Regions from separate parts of the Homo sapiens genome. Here all the other regions are linked to region 2. Evidence: fine-mapped expression QTL. A gene starts in region 2. Each other region holds a variant in brackets. All regions are shown on one strand. Distances are between the middles of the regions.

Region 1 (5,000 bases), 58 kb before region 2:
TTATAGAGGAAGGTTATAAAAAAAAAGCCACAGTGGGGCCCAGAGTCCAGAACCTCTCTGGCTCTTATCATCGTTTTTTTTATTAATAGATGGCTGCTGTCATGGCGGGGACAGAAGTCGGGGTGTAGGAGAGCCTTTCTGCCTCCCGTATGGACTTCCGACTAACTCTTCTCCATCCTGTCCCTACTTTCCAATGTACTTGATGCCTCCCATTTCTGAGCAAATTGGAATTCTATAAAACACATCAGCCTTCCTCAAGGCTTTCTCTCGTTTTAATCAAATACCACACTTTCTAGCTTCCAATATTGTATTGCTGCCTTCTTCCCACCTATTTTTCTATTCTTTCTTTTTTTTTTTTTTTTTTTTTTTTTGACACAGGGTCTTACTATGTTGCCTAGGCTGGCCTTGAACTCCAGGGCTTGGCTTGGCCCTACCTATTTATCTGTGCATTTATGTCTTTTAAAAACTAACCGGTCTGGGCAACATAGTGAGACCCCATTTCTACAAAAATTTTTAAAAATTAGACATGGTGGTGTGTGCCTGTAGCCCTAGCTACTTGGAAGACTTAGGCAAGAGGATCACTTGAACCGAGGAATTCTGGGCTACAGTGAGCTAGAATCACACCACTGCATTCCAGCCTGGGCAACAGAGCAAGACTCTGTCTCAAAACAAACAACCAAACAAACAAAACACCTTTTTTACTGCCATTTTAGAAAGGTTTTGGCAGGGTGCCTGATAAATGCTGTATGTTTCAATCTGCCATTTTTTGAGGACTTTCATGTTTAACAATGTGTTTATTTTTCCCTCATACTTGATGAATAGTTTGGGTATAGAATTTAAAGTTTAAATAATATTTATACTATATTTTATAAATAAAGCCAATGATGTATGTTCAAACTTGTACTTCACAGTCTTACGTTAAATGCTTTCAGTTTTTTAAAAATGGAAGGAAATAGGCTGGGTGCGGTGGCTCATGCCTTCAATCCCAGCCCTTTGGGAGGCCGAGGTGGGCAGATTGCCTGAGGTCAGGAGTTTGAGACCAGCCTGGCCAACATGGTGAAACCCTGTCTCTACTAAAAATAAATTACCCAGGCATGGTGGTGCACGCCTGTCATCCCAGCTACTTGGGAGGCTGAGGCAGGAGAATCGCTTGAACCCAGGAGACGGAGGTTGCAGTGAGCCGAGATGGTGCCACTGCACTCCAGCCTGGGCGACAGAGCGAGACTCCATGAAAAAAAAAACAAAAAACAAAACAAAAACAAAAAACAAAAAACTGAGCAGACTTGGGAGTTCATGCCTGTCATCTCAGCACCTTGGGAGTGTAAGGCCGGATGATTGCTTGAGGTCAGGAGTTCAGGACCAGCTTGGGCAACAAGGTAAGATCCCCATCTCCACAAAAAATAAAAAATTAGCTGCGTGTGGTGTTGCATGCTTGTGGTCCCAGCTACATGGGAGGCTGAGGTGGGAGGATCAGTTGATCCCAGGTGGTTGAGACTGCAGTGAGCCATGTTTGTGCCAATGCACTCTAGCCTGGATGAGAGAGTGAGATCTTATCTCCAAAAAATCAATAAACAAATAAACCATGAAGTCAACACATGTTCTTAGAAAAACAGCAACATGGCTGGGCATGGTGGCTTATGCCTGTAATCCCAGCACTTTGGGAGGCCAAGGTGGGTGGATCACCTGAGGTCAGGAGTTCAAGACCAGCCTGGCCAACATAGTGAAACCCTGTCTCTACTAAAAATACAAAAAATTAGCTGCGCTTGGTGGCTTGCGCCTATAATCCCAGCTACTCGGGAGGCTGAGGCAGGAGAATTGCTTGAACCTGGGAGGCGGAGGTTGCAGTGAGCCAAGATCACGTCACTGCACTCCAGCCTGGGCAACAAGAGCTAAACTCCATCTCAAAAAAAAAAAAAAAAAAAAA[G/AG]AAGAGCAACCTCTCACATCCAGGACATAGAAAAATAGGGCACAAATAACTTACATAAATGAAAACTTTTTTTAATTTTTAAAAGTTTTTAAAAAATGTTTGTAGAGATGGGGTCTTGCTATGTTGTCCAGGATGGTCTCAAACTCCTGGCCTCAAGTGATCCCTCCACCCCAGCCTCCCAAAGTGCTGGGATTACAGGTGTGAGCTACCATGCCTGGCCACAAATGAAATTTTAAGTTGAAATTTTGTATTACATCAAGAGCTGATGGTTAAGGAAAAATGAAATAAAATGAATACTAGGCAGAGATTTAAAACTTGAGGGGCGATGAAAAGTCTCAGCAAAGTAGTCCAAAGGACAATGATAATTTATTCCATTTGCATAGTAGTTCTAGTGTTGAAAGATCTTTTAACACCTCATAACACCTTTATGAGGCAGAGATATAAAATTATGCCCATCTTTTAAAATAAGAAAAACAAGGCTCAGACACGCCGTGCTGTACCAGTGGCCCAGAGCCAGAAGTGGAAGCAGCAGCTGGGCCACCTGCTCACGGGGCCACCTACTCAAGGTGCCTTTCTCAAGAAAATTTTAGGTTCCCCGTGATCCCACTGATAAGAATGGAGGGAGACCAGAGGTGGGCTGACCCTAAAACTAATAAAGCTGAAGCTCCAGGAGCCTCCCTGCACAGGCTCCTCCAAGACCCTCACCTGGTTTTTTCTTAAACTACTTTTTAAAACAGTTTACATTGACAGGAAAATTGCAAAGACAATACAGAGTCCTTACATATCCCACACCCAGTTTCCCCTGTTATTCCTCTGTTATTAGCATCTTCCATTAGTGTGGGATGTTTGTTATAATTAATGAACCAAGATTGCTGCATCACTACTATAACTAAAGTCCAAATTTCATTCAGATTTCCTCAGTTTTGCCTTAATGTCCTTCTGTTCCAGGATTCCCATCCAGGATATCATATTACCTTTGAGATTCGTGAGAAAGGTAGCAAAGTGTACCTATATTCTTGGCTTCTCTACCGGGTTCCCTTTATCTACTGCTACCAGTTTAACTATTATGCTTGGTTATTTTAATAAGTGGCTCCCATTTTTTACCGAAAGAATTTAAAGAAAAAAACTTATAGTTTTTATTTGGGTCCCAAAATAACACTCGCCTTGTAGTCTGGCCACAGACCACATAAACCAGCTCTGCCAAACTCTAATCACTGTTCGCTTTCATTGTTGGCCCAGGCAGGAGGAAGGAACCAGCTTATTATGGGCTTGACTTAAAACTCAAAACAGATAACAGAAGAGTAGCAAACACCACTCTTTCATTTATTCATTTCTGTACAGATCATCCATGAATTGGCTAAACATCTTATAGCTATTCATATTTCAACATAGAATAGCTCTTGAATTAGGGGAAATGAGGGCAGAAGGAAAGAAAATCCTTTGCTGTCCTAAAACGGCTTTGCTTTCCTAGAGTAATTTCAGTAAAAATATTTCTGGTTCACCCTGTCTGTGGCCTGCACAACATAAGCTTGGGCTGACTCATTCATTCATTCAAAATGATATTATGGAGTATCTCCTGTGTGTGATGCCACGGTGGTCTGTCAGAAGTCTGTTTTTCTTTGTCCAGTGAGCCTTCTCATCTCCCTTCTTCTGGTGACAAATCCTTCTCACCTTTGCCCAGGAGCTGGCTCACCTCATCACAGCACTCTCAGCATCTTACACACAGTGTGGCTCCCCGGGGGCAGCTCTCCTGCCACCTGGGATTGAGAAGTGGATGCTTAGGGCAGATGATGCCAGGGCTGCTGGGAGGCTCACACAGTGGGAGAGAAGCCTCCAGCCCTGGGGCCAGCAGCTCTGGTTGTCTGAGCTACTCCAGTCTCTCTGCTAGCTACAGGAGCCACTAATGTTCCTTTTCGTTTAAGCCAACTTAGGTTGGGTTTCTGTCCCATCCTCTCTCACTTGTATAGAAAGAGCCTTAATAAAAAGCACAGATATGATGTTAAATGCTGGGTATATACTGATGAACAAAATCAGCACTGTGCATCATCAGGGGAATACAAACTAATACCACAATGGTATACCATGACACACACACCCAACTGGCTAAAAATGACTAACAAAACCAGTGTTGAAACAGGTGAGCAAATGGAACCCTCATACACTGCTGGTGAGAGTGTGAACTGGTACAGCTGCTTTGGAAAACTGTTTGGAAACAGGTACCAAAGCTGAGCATATGTATATGACATGATTCAGCAATTCCACCCAACAGAAATCTGCACACGTGTTCCCAATGCTCATGGTGCTACTGTTCATAGAGCCAGAACTGAGGAATACCCAGGAACAGTATGATGGATAAAGACTTTGTTGTATATCCACACAATGGAATACTATACAGCAATGAGATGAATGATCGAAAATTACAGTGTGATCAAAAATTGTAATGTGGATGAACTTCATAAAAAACAACAGGGAGCAAAAGAAGGCCAGCACAGAATACTAGGCATGGCCCGATTTCATACACATCAGGTTCTAGAGCAGGCTAGTGGATCCCTGCTGTCAGGAGCCAGCAGTGCTCGCCCTGGGCTGGAGAATGAATGGAAAGGAGTGAAGGGGCTTCATGCTCTGGGGCTGCTCATGCTGTTTCCTGATCGGAGTGGTGGTCATACAAGTTCATTTTGTGAAAAACTATCAAACTGTATATTTATCATGTATAAATATATCCATGATAAATGTATAAGTGTATACATTTATATAATGTATATATTTATACATGTATAAGTGTATACATTTATACATGTATATGTGTCTATATATGCTCTTTTCTGTATGTCTATTTTTTTTTATACTTTAAGTTTTAGGGTACATGTGCACAATGTGCAGGTTAGTTACATATGTATACATGTGCCATGTTGGTGTGCTGCACCCATGTATGTCTATATTTCAACAAAAAGTTAAAAAATAAGACAGTATTCCTGACCTCATGAAGCATAAAATTTGGTGGAAAAGACAGATAATAAATAACGAAATAAATTAAATTTATAATTTAAAAATTGTGATGAGTGCCAAGATGCCTCCT
Region 2 (5,000 bases):
CTCGCTGTAATTACTGTTAATATTTTGTTGTTTATTCCTTCCAATTTGTTCTCTAGTAAAATGCTAAATTACATACATCAAAAGAAGGTAAGATCATAATACATGTACAGTTTTGAAAATCTCTTTATTCCTGGTATAGCATGGACAACTATGCATGGTGGTATTAATGGAGTTACTTCTGTTTCTCCAAATAGCTTTATGGTAAGCCCACTTTGTTCTCTATCTATACACAACTGGGTTAACTTTTTTTCTAATCCATGGTTACAGTACTTCAGAGTACTTCCTTGAAGGCACACTTTTGTACAGAAAGAGGTGTTTCTACAATGGGTTCCTAGAGGTGAAATGGTAGGACAGACAGCATAGCTACTGTTCAGCTGTCCTCAAGGAAGAGGAGAGTTTCTGTTTTCCCTACACACTGGCCAACACAGCATATCATCAACATTTTTTTCCCCCAAAAAACAATGTATGTATTTCAAATCAGGCCATGATTTTTGATTAGCAGTGGTCTTCAAGCTTGATTGAGCATTGGCATTATTTGGGTAATTTTTCTACCCCCAAAGTTTTGTCAGCAACATCTCACTATGGTAGTGAAAAAATAACCTTCCTGTTTTAATTTACTTTTCTTGACTGTTACTGAGATTGAGAAATCTTCCTCTTCTGTTTTATTGACCACTGACATTTCCTCTTCTATGAACTGCCTGTTTAATGGTGTTTGCTCATTTGTACTCATCTTTTTCTTTTCTTTTCTTTTCTTTTTTGAGATGTAGTCTCGCTCTGTTGCCCAGGCTGGAGTGCAATGGCACAATCTTGGCTCACTGCAACCTCCGCCTCCTAGGTTCAAGTGATTCTCCTACCTCAGCCTCCTGAGTAGCTGGGACTACAGGCATGTGCTACCATACTCGGCTAATTTTTGTACTGTTAGTAGAGACGGGGTTTCACATGTTGGCCAGGCTGGTCTCAAACTCCTAACCTCAGGTGATCCACCTGTCTCTGCCTCCCAAAGTGCTGGGATTACAGGTGTGAGCCACTGCACTCAGCTAGTTTTACATTTTTAAAAATAGATATCATTTTCCTTATTTTTAGGAAGTTGAGTGGCTTATGTATTTAGTCCCTTATCTTGATTCAGTCTATCTAGGTCATTTTACAAAATCCTGATTCAGTCTAACCACGTCATTTAAACAAATATTTAGCTCCTCTTTGCCAAATGATTTGGACCCCTGAAATAACGATATAAGAATTTCAGGCCAGGTGCGGTGGCTCATGCCTGTAATCCCAGCACTTTGGAAGGCCGAGGTGGGTGGATCACATGAGGTCAAGAGTTCGAGACCAGCCTGGCCAACATGGTGAAACCCCATCTCTACTAAAAAAAAAAATACAAAAATTAATCTGGCATGGTGGCAGGCGCCTTTAAGCCCACCTACTCGGGAAGCTGAGGCAGGAGAATCCCTTGAACCTGGGAGGCGGAGGTTTCAGTGTGCTGAGATCACGACATTGCACTCTAGCCTGGGCAACAGAGCAAAAACTCCCGTCTCAAAAAAAAAAAAAAAATTTAAAAAATAGTTCTAAAATTACCTAGTCTAGGATAGGCACTGAGTTAGGACCTTCATATCTGTTATTCCTTTTATTTTCAGAAAAATTTGAAAGGTATCACCCTAGTTTTACAGAAGAGTGAACTTTGGTCAGAAACATTAAGTAACTTACTCAAGGTCCCTCATAAACAGCAGGGTTGCGCTTGGAATCCTGATCTGTCTCTAACTTCTCATTTGCAGATAAAGAAACTGAGGCCAAAGTACACAACTAATTTGCCAGCGTAACAGGTAATTAGGAGCCACACAGCTCCCTTTCACATTTTCTTTCTATTATTTCATGGTTAGAAGTTACATAATTTCCACTGATATTAATACGTAACCATTTTTTTGTTGTTGTCGTTTTGTTAGTATTGTGTGTGAGATCGAGGTGGGTGGGCAGATGAGTTAAATATTATTAATCCAATTTAAAATAGATTCCAGATATACACAGCCTTTAGCTGACGAGAATATCATCCCTATAATCTGATAAAGCTCAAGTGACATCATCCTGGCTAGTATAAACTTTAACATTTTTAATGCGAATAGTCTATGAAAACCACAGATTTCTTAATCAAGCTCATTTTTGTGTTTCCAACTCTGCCTTTTCAGCCTGCAAACAAAATGCTCTTCCCCCACACCCACTGCTGTTTTCTACTTTTCTTATGATTAAAAAAAATATTTCCCTTGGTAACCATTTTCCCTGGTTACTTTCTTGGCTGATTTTCTGCACAAAGAACTGAAAGGCATTTATCCCCAAGGGAGGCAGTTATTTTAGATTTTACTAAGAAGTTCAGCAAATACTTTTCAACATTCCCTTCTGTCCTTTCTTTGTTTTTAAAGAAAGCTCTGATTTTGTTTCATTTTCAGCTGGAGACTTAAATGACACCAAGCAAAGCCTACTTAGTTTAGATCTCCAGGTAAAAAAGTTTTAAATTTTAAGTTTCTACTTAGCATGTGGAATGGTTTTAATATTTGGGTATTTTATTTCACAACTGTTTAACTCTTGAGTAAATTAGCTCGTTACTAATAGATTTTTAAAGTTCAAAGTATGCATTATTCTGTTTGTTTTTTTCACGATGTACTTCCCAAGTATTTCAGACCTTGTATACTTAGTATTAAATTATTTTTATATGTTTAGGTGGAATTATGTGTTCAATAGAAGTATAAATTGGTTTGAAAATATTATTAATTTTTAAGTCCTAAAAGAACATAAATAATTCAAAATATTTTTCATTTTAAATCTGTTGAATGAAGTGAAAATAGATAATAGACATCTCATGACTTCATGTAGAATTTTAAAATTCTAAATTAATATTTTTAAAGTTTACTTAAGATAACTGGTAAGAAATTTTAAATGAAGAAAAATAAGTTAATCAAGGTTTATAAATAATATTTAATGTTGGGATAAACACAGTAAGTGCTAGAAGGAAAAAAATTACTTGATAAAAATGATACTATGATTGGAATCCCAGAAAATTTACCTCTAGGAGGCAAACACTCAATTACGAAGTTGTTTATGAAAGCAAATATTAAGTGCAAAGCAAAATTCTGTATATCAATGAAAATAATGAGGGCCTAAGCATTAATAGTAAAATTAGTATTGAGAGACCATTTCCTAAAATGTATTTAAACACTGTAGTGAGACTGTTTAGATACTGATTTTGTCAAAATTCAAATAGCTCTGTAAGTTTATTTCTGTGCCTATCTATTTAGATTTCTGGGTAAGTAAAAGTGAGTCAATTTGGGGGAAAAAAAGAAAGAGAGGTAGTTTCCAGAATGAGGATACTGGGAGAGAGGGGTGTGCTCAGAATGGCCACAGCTGGCACATTCACACTCCTAAGCACTCAATCAGGCAATGCCCCATAAGTGAGTGCTTTCAGGATGCCTCAGGACAGCAGGATGCCTGAGACCCTCATGAGAGTTTAACTCTAGAGCCTCGAGGTCTAGGCCCTGACTCCTCACAACAGGATGGAAGGTCTGCACATACAATTGTTAATGCAAGAAAATTTCAATGTATACATTTCATGCATTGCAGAGCACTTATGATATCCATCAGAGCACACTTGCCATGCCACTCAGCAAATTCTAGTTTCACTTTGTCTCTCAGTTCAGGTTTTCATATTGCTTTCCCCTGCTGTTGTTGTTATTCCCTTCCAACATACTACTTTGCTCTCTGAATTGACTTTTATGATTTCAGGTGCCAATCAGCTAATGGATTTGGTCCTTCTTTACATGCTGCATGTTAATTTTTCTAAAACTAAAGTAGATTGCAAAAAGTTGTTCAAAAAGTTGTTCCAGTAACCTATGAAATATAGGTCATTTCAATAACCTATAGTAATGGTTTTCAAATGACTGTGGCAATTAATGTATATATACGCTGAAGAAAGGTTTGTATGCTGGCATGAAGATACTTTAGAGACTGCCGTTTGTTGAACAAAGGTGATGTGGCAAGTCAGACTATGAACTAACTAAGTGAAACCTGACTAGAGGAAGATGATTCTGGCAGATGAAGTTATAAAAAGAAGTACTGAGATTCAAGAGGGGAAACTGAGCTGACCTTGTGCCCTCTTCCCCTCTCACCAACTCCCTTGAAATAATACAAGATATATTACAGACAAATAAATGCACGAATATACAGCTACACTAGGAAATAAAAAGGGGAGCTCCTGGTGGGACAGACACTCTGAGGAGTCCTTCACAGACAAAGAGAAGACAGAAATGAATTTAAAGAGGAAAAATGTACCCTTGAACAGTCATGGGAGAAAACAGAGTGAAGAGAGCTTGTATAGGAAAAAAAGAAGTTTTTAGTTTAAAAGATCCCAAGAAGGATACATTAAACAGCAAAAACAACCTATACCAAGGTACATTCCATTCTTTTACCAAGGTAAAACTTCCAAATATCAAAGATATGTTGAAAATTTGAAAAAAATTTCTATAGAAAGAAAAAAAATTTCTTACAAAGGGATGAGAATCAGATTCAAGTCAAATTTCTCATCGGCAACACTAAATATAAGAAATAATGGACAAATATCTATAAGGTATTAAAGAAAAATGATTAGAATGATTTTGAAACCGTAATTCTGTTTCCAATTAAACAATGACATTTTCAGATCTTTAATAAGAGCACAGAATTTTACAACTTACAACATTCTCTGAGAAAAAGAGGATATATTTCTGCAAGAAATAAAAGGAATCTGAGGGAGCTTCTCCTTCTGATAATGGCAGACAAGGCAAGTCAGATCATTAGACCTGCTGAGAATAACTAGAAAGGGTGAGAAAAACAACAGGGCCAATATTTGGGATGGGACTGAAACCCAGAGAGGTTTAGAACAGTTTTTCTTCTAGAAGCATCTGGATTCCAGAAGAGGTGGTTGAGAAGATTAATAGAGTTTTAAAACAGCCTCAGGAGGACAGAGAGAAACAAACAAACAA
Region 3 (5,355 bases), 970 kb after region 2:
GCCCCAGAACCATGCCTATATCCTCGTGCATTTTTCTGCTCTCATAGAGGGAGCTTTTCTACTTTTTCTCCCATTTGAGAGTGCTCTGCTGGTGGAAAGGTTTACTTTAAGTCTCCCCGCTAAGCCTCTGTAATAAGAATACTCTATCTCACAGCTGTCAGCTCTTTTAAACAGTGCTGCCTCTGGTTCTTTGAAAAATGCCAGCCATTTATTTAATCCCGGCTTTGGCTTCAAGTCCACTGGAACAATGGCTAGCATGCCTGTGATTACGTTATCACCATTTCTCTGTGTTGGGAGAGGCTTTGTTGGTACATGTGAGTCAAAGACTTCTTGCTGTTTCCTGATTTTTCTCTTTGTTCTCTCCAGTCTTTCTACTTGGCACCGGTTAGTGTGCCTGGAGGTTTAAGACCAGGTATAATATAGTAGCAAGATGCAAAGCTGGCATATGATGTCAGAAGCAGGTTGAGGTTTTCTGTTTGTTGATAAACTCAGTAAAAGAAAAAAATGGATGTTGTCACCTGTCGTGGGTCATAGTAAACAGAAAGCCACCCCTCTCTCAGGCTGATGGTTGATTCAGGTTCATCCATTCAGACAAATAAATACCTGACAAATATTTATTAGATACTTAATAGGCACTATTAGTTGCTACTCACCTGAGATGGCCTAATGTGGGTAATTTCAATGAACAGCCATTCTTTTTATGAGCTTGTTTAATTTTTTTTTTTTTGAAACATTGTATTGTCTTGAGTGTGACAGAAACGTCCACCAATCTCTGTCTTCCCTTTTCCTTTGGCTATAGACTCACAACTTTTAGTTAGACACATGCTGTCTTGAATGAAGACCACATTTCTCAGCCTCCACTGCGTTTAGTGTGGCCATGTGGGTAGGACTTGGTCAAGGAGAAGGTAGCAGAATGTTGCAAGTAACTTCCAGGAAGAGTCTTTAAGAGGATGGAATGTCCTTCTTATTTCCCTCTCTTTCCTGCTGAATGAAATGCAGATGTAGTAGCCAGAATTTGAGCAGTCGTTTTGATCATGAGGTGGAAGCAATGTGCAGAAGATGATGGGGAAAAAAAGGAATTTCAACAGATTTTTGGGAGAGAAAAATCAGATGATACAACTGGTTTAGAAGGGGGAAGAAATTTACAATCCATGGTGCCTGTAGAGATTGAGGCTAATGGGAAGAGAGTGTTCTGCCTTGCAGAACTTGTGAAATGCTCAGGAATTTGAGGCAGTACATACAGTGGTCAGCTGGATTAATGAGGGCTGGCTGGAGACTGTGGAACAGTCAGACTCTAGAACACCTTCACCCTCCACACTCAGGCAAGTCACTCCTCCAGGTCCTCCAACCACTGCCCCTATAGATGAGATGAGTATTATTCACTGGAGAAGCTAAGCAGGAGAACTGCTGGATGTTGGGAAACCAACTGAATTGCAGGGTAGGGCAGTAATTGTGGAAATTACAGACATGTCTGTATGAGAAACAATTGAATCTATGCCCTCTCTCTCTCTCCCACTTTCTCTCCTAGGACATCTTTTGCAGATGTCACAGACTTCCATCTGAGGTGGAATAGTTTCACCCTGAAACCATGCAACTATAGGCTATCTATAAGAGACACATTTTAGATTCATAGAAACAAGTAGGTAGATAATAAAAGGATGACACAATGTACACTAGGCAGACAGTAGGCAAAGAGAGCTGGATTAGCTATACTAATATCAGATGAAACTGATTTTGAAAGAAGAAAAATCACAAGAGAAGAGAAGGCATTTCACAATTATAAGAGGGTAAACATATCAGAAAGATATAGCAATTATAAATGTAAATGCACCTAACACTGGGTCTCAAAATACATGAAGCAAGGACTGATAGAATTGAGAGCAGAAATAAAGTCGGAGATTTTAATTATAGTCTTTCAAATATTGATAGAACAGCAATTCATAAAGTCAAGAAGGGTATAGAAGACTTGAACAACACTATCAACCAACTTGACCTAAGGGACATATATGGAACACGCTACCCCAAAACAGAATGCACATTCTTTCCTGGACTTCAAGGAACATCCTACAGCAGTGATTTCCAACCCCTGGCAGGAACCAGTCCCAGTCTGTGGCCTGTTAGGAACCAGGCTGCACCGCAGGAGGTAAGCGGCGGGTGTGCATTACTGCCTGAGCTCCACCTCCTGTCAGATGAGTGGTGGCATTAGATTCTCGTGGGAGCACGAACCCTATTGTGAACGGCATATGTGAGGGATCTAGGTTGTGTGTTCCTTATGAGAACCTAATATGTGATGATCTGAGGTGGAATAGTTTCATCCTGAAACCATCCACCACCTCTATCCCACAACACCCACTCCACCCGTTTGTGGGAAAATTGTCTTCCATGAAACTGGTCCCCGGTGCCAAAAAAGTTGGGGACCGCTGTGCTACAGAATAGACCCTAGACCCTATTCTAAGCCATGAAACGAGTTGCATTAGTTTCCTGTGGCTGTTGTAACCAGTTGCCACAAATGTGGTGGCCTAAAACAACAGAAATGTATCCTCTCCCAAGTCTGGACTCCAGAATTCCAAACTTCCAGTCTGAAATCAGTATTACTGGGCTGAAATCCAGAAGTCAGCAGGGCTGCACTTCCTGCAGAGGCTCTAGAGGATGATCCCTTCCTGGCAAATTCTGGCTTCTGGAGGCTGGCAGCATTCCTTGGCTTGTGGCTGCATGACTTAAATCTTGAGATCCTTAATTTAATCACACCTACAAAGACCCTATTTCCATATAGTGTCACATTCACAGGTTTCAGGGATTAGGAAATGAATACCTTTGGGGAGATCTTTTTTTTTTAGCTTATCAAGCAAGTTTCAAAAAATGTAAAGGGCTTACAATAATGCAAATGTTCTGTGACTAAAAATTAAATTAGCAATCAACAAGAGAAATAAATATGGAAAACGGTTACACATTTGGAAACTAAACTACCAGTTTCCAAGTATTCATGGATCAAAGAAGGAATCACAAACAAAATTAAAAATATCTCAAATTGAATGAAAATGAAAGTACCACATTTCAAAATTTATAGGATGCCATCAGTGCTTAGGGGGAAATTTATAGGTTTAAACTCCTATATTTGAAAAAAGAAAGTTTTAAAAAAGAATAACAAGCTTCCTCATCAAGAAGCTAGAAAAAGGGCTCAGTGCTGCATCCTACCCTCCACCAGCTGCCAGAGTGAGAGGGAAGGGACCCTTTCCTC[T/C]CTGGCCTGAGAATCAAGGGCATGGAGCCCAGGGGGCAAGCAAAGCAGGGGTCTGAGGGCTCCCTCTGGGCACTGAGGGCTCCCTCTGGGTTCACTGCAGTCCGTGGGGCATTGGGCACCTGGTCCCTGAGGGCAGCTTGTAGGGGGTAACTCTCCAGCATCCAGGTCTCCCGCCCCTCCCTTTTTTCCCCTCTATCTTTTCCTATTTGGAATGAAGTGTGGTCAGTCCCGGAAGAGAGACAGTGGCACTAAAGCATCCCTGTCCTAAATTTAGGAGGGTGGGGGATGGAAGGAATGCCTGATCCTGGAGAGGGAAGCCCTAGGCTTCTGTGAGGGCATGGGGTGGGGAGCTGCCAGCTGCCCAAGGTCAGGAAAAAAAGTTGTGCTTAACTCCGCAGCAGGGTGCCTTGAAGGGTTGTGAGCACAGAAGGGAGAGGGCCACACGGGGCTGTGGATCCTCTTTTGACTGTGGCAGAAGAATAGGAAAGATTCTAAACTGTTTGGATGCAGAGCCTTTGACTCTGAAGGCAGGAGGTAGGATTTTATCACAATGCACATGCTACCCTCGCAACTGAGCCTGGCCTCAGGACTTGGACCTTAAGTTAGGGGTTCTATGCTTGACACATACTAGTAGTGATTGATAGGGACAGGATGCAGGGAAATTCTGGACAGAAGATGGTGAGTGCTCAGCAAGGGTCCCACCTTCAAGCCAAAAAGCCTGAAACCACTGCCCAAAGTGAGAACTTACATCCCTGTTTTCCCCATCAAATGTTGCCTTTTCCAAAACCACCCATACCCCTACCCCATCCCATCCTGTGTCTATAAAAACCCCAGGCTCAGCCAGCAGAGAGAGGAGAAGCCACTGGATATCAGAGACTATGGCTGAACATCAGAGAGAAGCAGCTTGACTTCAGAGGGACAGCTTGATAGTGTAACTTTAGGGAAGAATCTGGCCGGAGAAGGCTGGACATCAGGAGATTACCTTCCCACTCTGTCCCTTTTTCAGATCCCCTTCCTGCTGAGAGCCACTTCCATCGGCAATAAATCCCTGACATTTACCATCCTTCAATTTGTTCATGTGACCTTATTTTTCCTGGACGCTGGACAAGAGCTTGGGTGTCACGAGTGTGGATGTAAAAGGCTGTCACACTGACCCTTTGCCCTCGCTGGCAGGAGGCAGCTGCCTCAGGCGAAAAGGCAGAAGGTTGACTGAGCTGTTAACACTTAGGCTGCCCGTGGACAGCAGAGCTAAAGGAGTACTGTAACACTCCCTCTGGGGCTTCAGGGGTCATGGGTACCCCTTGCAGATGTTGAGGCAGGCCCGCATAGAGTTTTGCTCCTGCCAGAGCCCACAAGTGCTCGTCCTGGCTCCAGCACCTGCTCACCTGAAGTCCCCCTCCCACGAGGGGTGGAACGCAGCAGGTTCAAGCAAGTGGAGTTTGCCCTGTCGGTGCTGAAGTAGTGGCTAGTTCCAGTGCCCGTGCACTCCAGTTCCCACCCACAGAGAGGTCAGGGAAATATCCTGCTTCATTGTAGTGTCCAGACTAAAACAAAACATAAAAAACCAAAACCCTAGAAAAAGGAGTGAATTAAAGCAAGAGTAAGTAGAAAAAGAAAAAAGGCAATAATGAAAATCAGACCAGAAAAAAGTCAATTTTTAAAAAGACCAATACAGAAACATCAATGAAATAAAAAATTCATTCTTTGGAAAGATCAACAGAATTGATAAACCACTAGGTAGACTGATTAAGAAGAAAAGAGAGAAGACACCAATTCCAAAATTAGAAACAGAATAGGGAACATCACTCAGACTAAAGAAATTGAATGGATTAGAAAGATATTATAAACAATTGCATGCAAACAAACCCAAGAACCATAATGGAATGGACAAATTCCTAGAAAGACATAACTGAAACTGTTTCAAGAAGAAATAGAAAATCAAGTAAGGAGTTTTAATTGGTGATTAAATTGCCCCATAAATAAAAACCTGGCCGAGCACAGTGGCTCATGCCTGTAATTCCAGCACTTTGGGAGGCCAAGGTGGGAGGATCACCTAAGGTCAGGAGTTCGAGACCAGCCTGGCCAACATGGTGAAACCCCATCTCTACTAAAAATAC

Direction of the effects. Alleles are on the strand shown, and positions count from the first base shown. SD is a standard deviation of normalised expression in the study named. Not every link is listed here.
As copies of G replace AG in region 1, the expression in skin of the gene that starts at base 2,428 in region 2 goes down (small effect, 0.33 SD a copy in TwinsUK).

The links. PIP is the estimated chance that this variant, and not a neighbour inherited with it, causes the effect.
Region 1: its variant is fine-mapped to the expression of ECM2 in skin (TwinsUK, PIP 0.93).
Region 3: its variant is fine-mapped to the expression of ECM2 in cerebellar hemisphere (GTEx, PIP 0.99).

The regions. Positions count from the first base shown.
Region 1 is chr9:92,591,817-92,596,816 of GRCh38, reverse strand. The region is part of intron 5 of CENPP (centromere protein P); the gene reads right to left. Among named protein-coding and RNA genes, the nearest start is that of ECM2, 58 kb to the right of the region's middle. The variant G/AG (reference allele first, on the strand shown) is at 1,925.
Region 2 is chr9:92,533,418-92,538,417 of GRCh38, reverse strand. It overlaps ECM2 (extracellular matrix protein 2), which reads left to right and starts at 2,428. Exons shown (of 10, transcript NM_001393.4): 1 at 2,428-2,485. All of the region lies in intron 5 of CENPP (centromere protein P), which reads right to left.
Region 3 is chr9:91,567,150-91,572,504 of GRCh38, reverse strand. No RefSeq gene overlaps it. Among named protein-coding and RNA genes, the nearest start is that of MIR3910-1, 66 kb to the left of the region's middle. RefSeq lists an enhancer at 34-570. The variant T/C (reference allele first, on the strand shown) is at 3,239.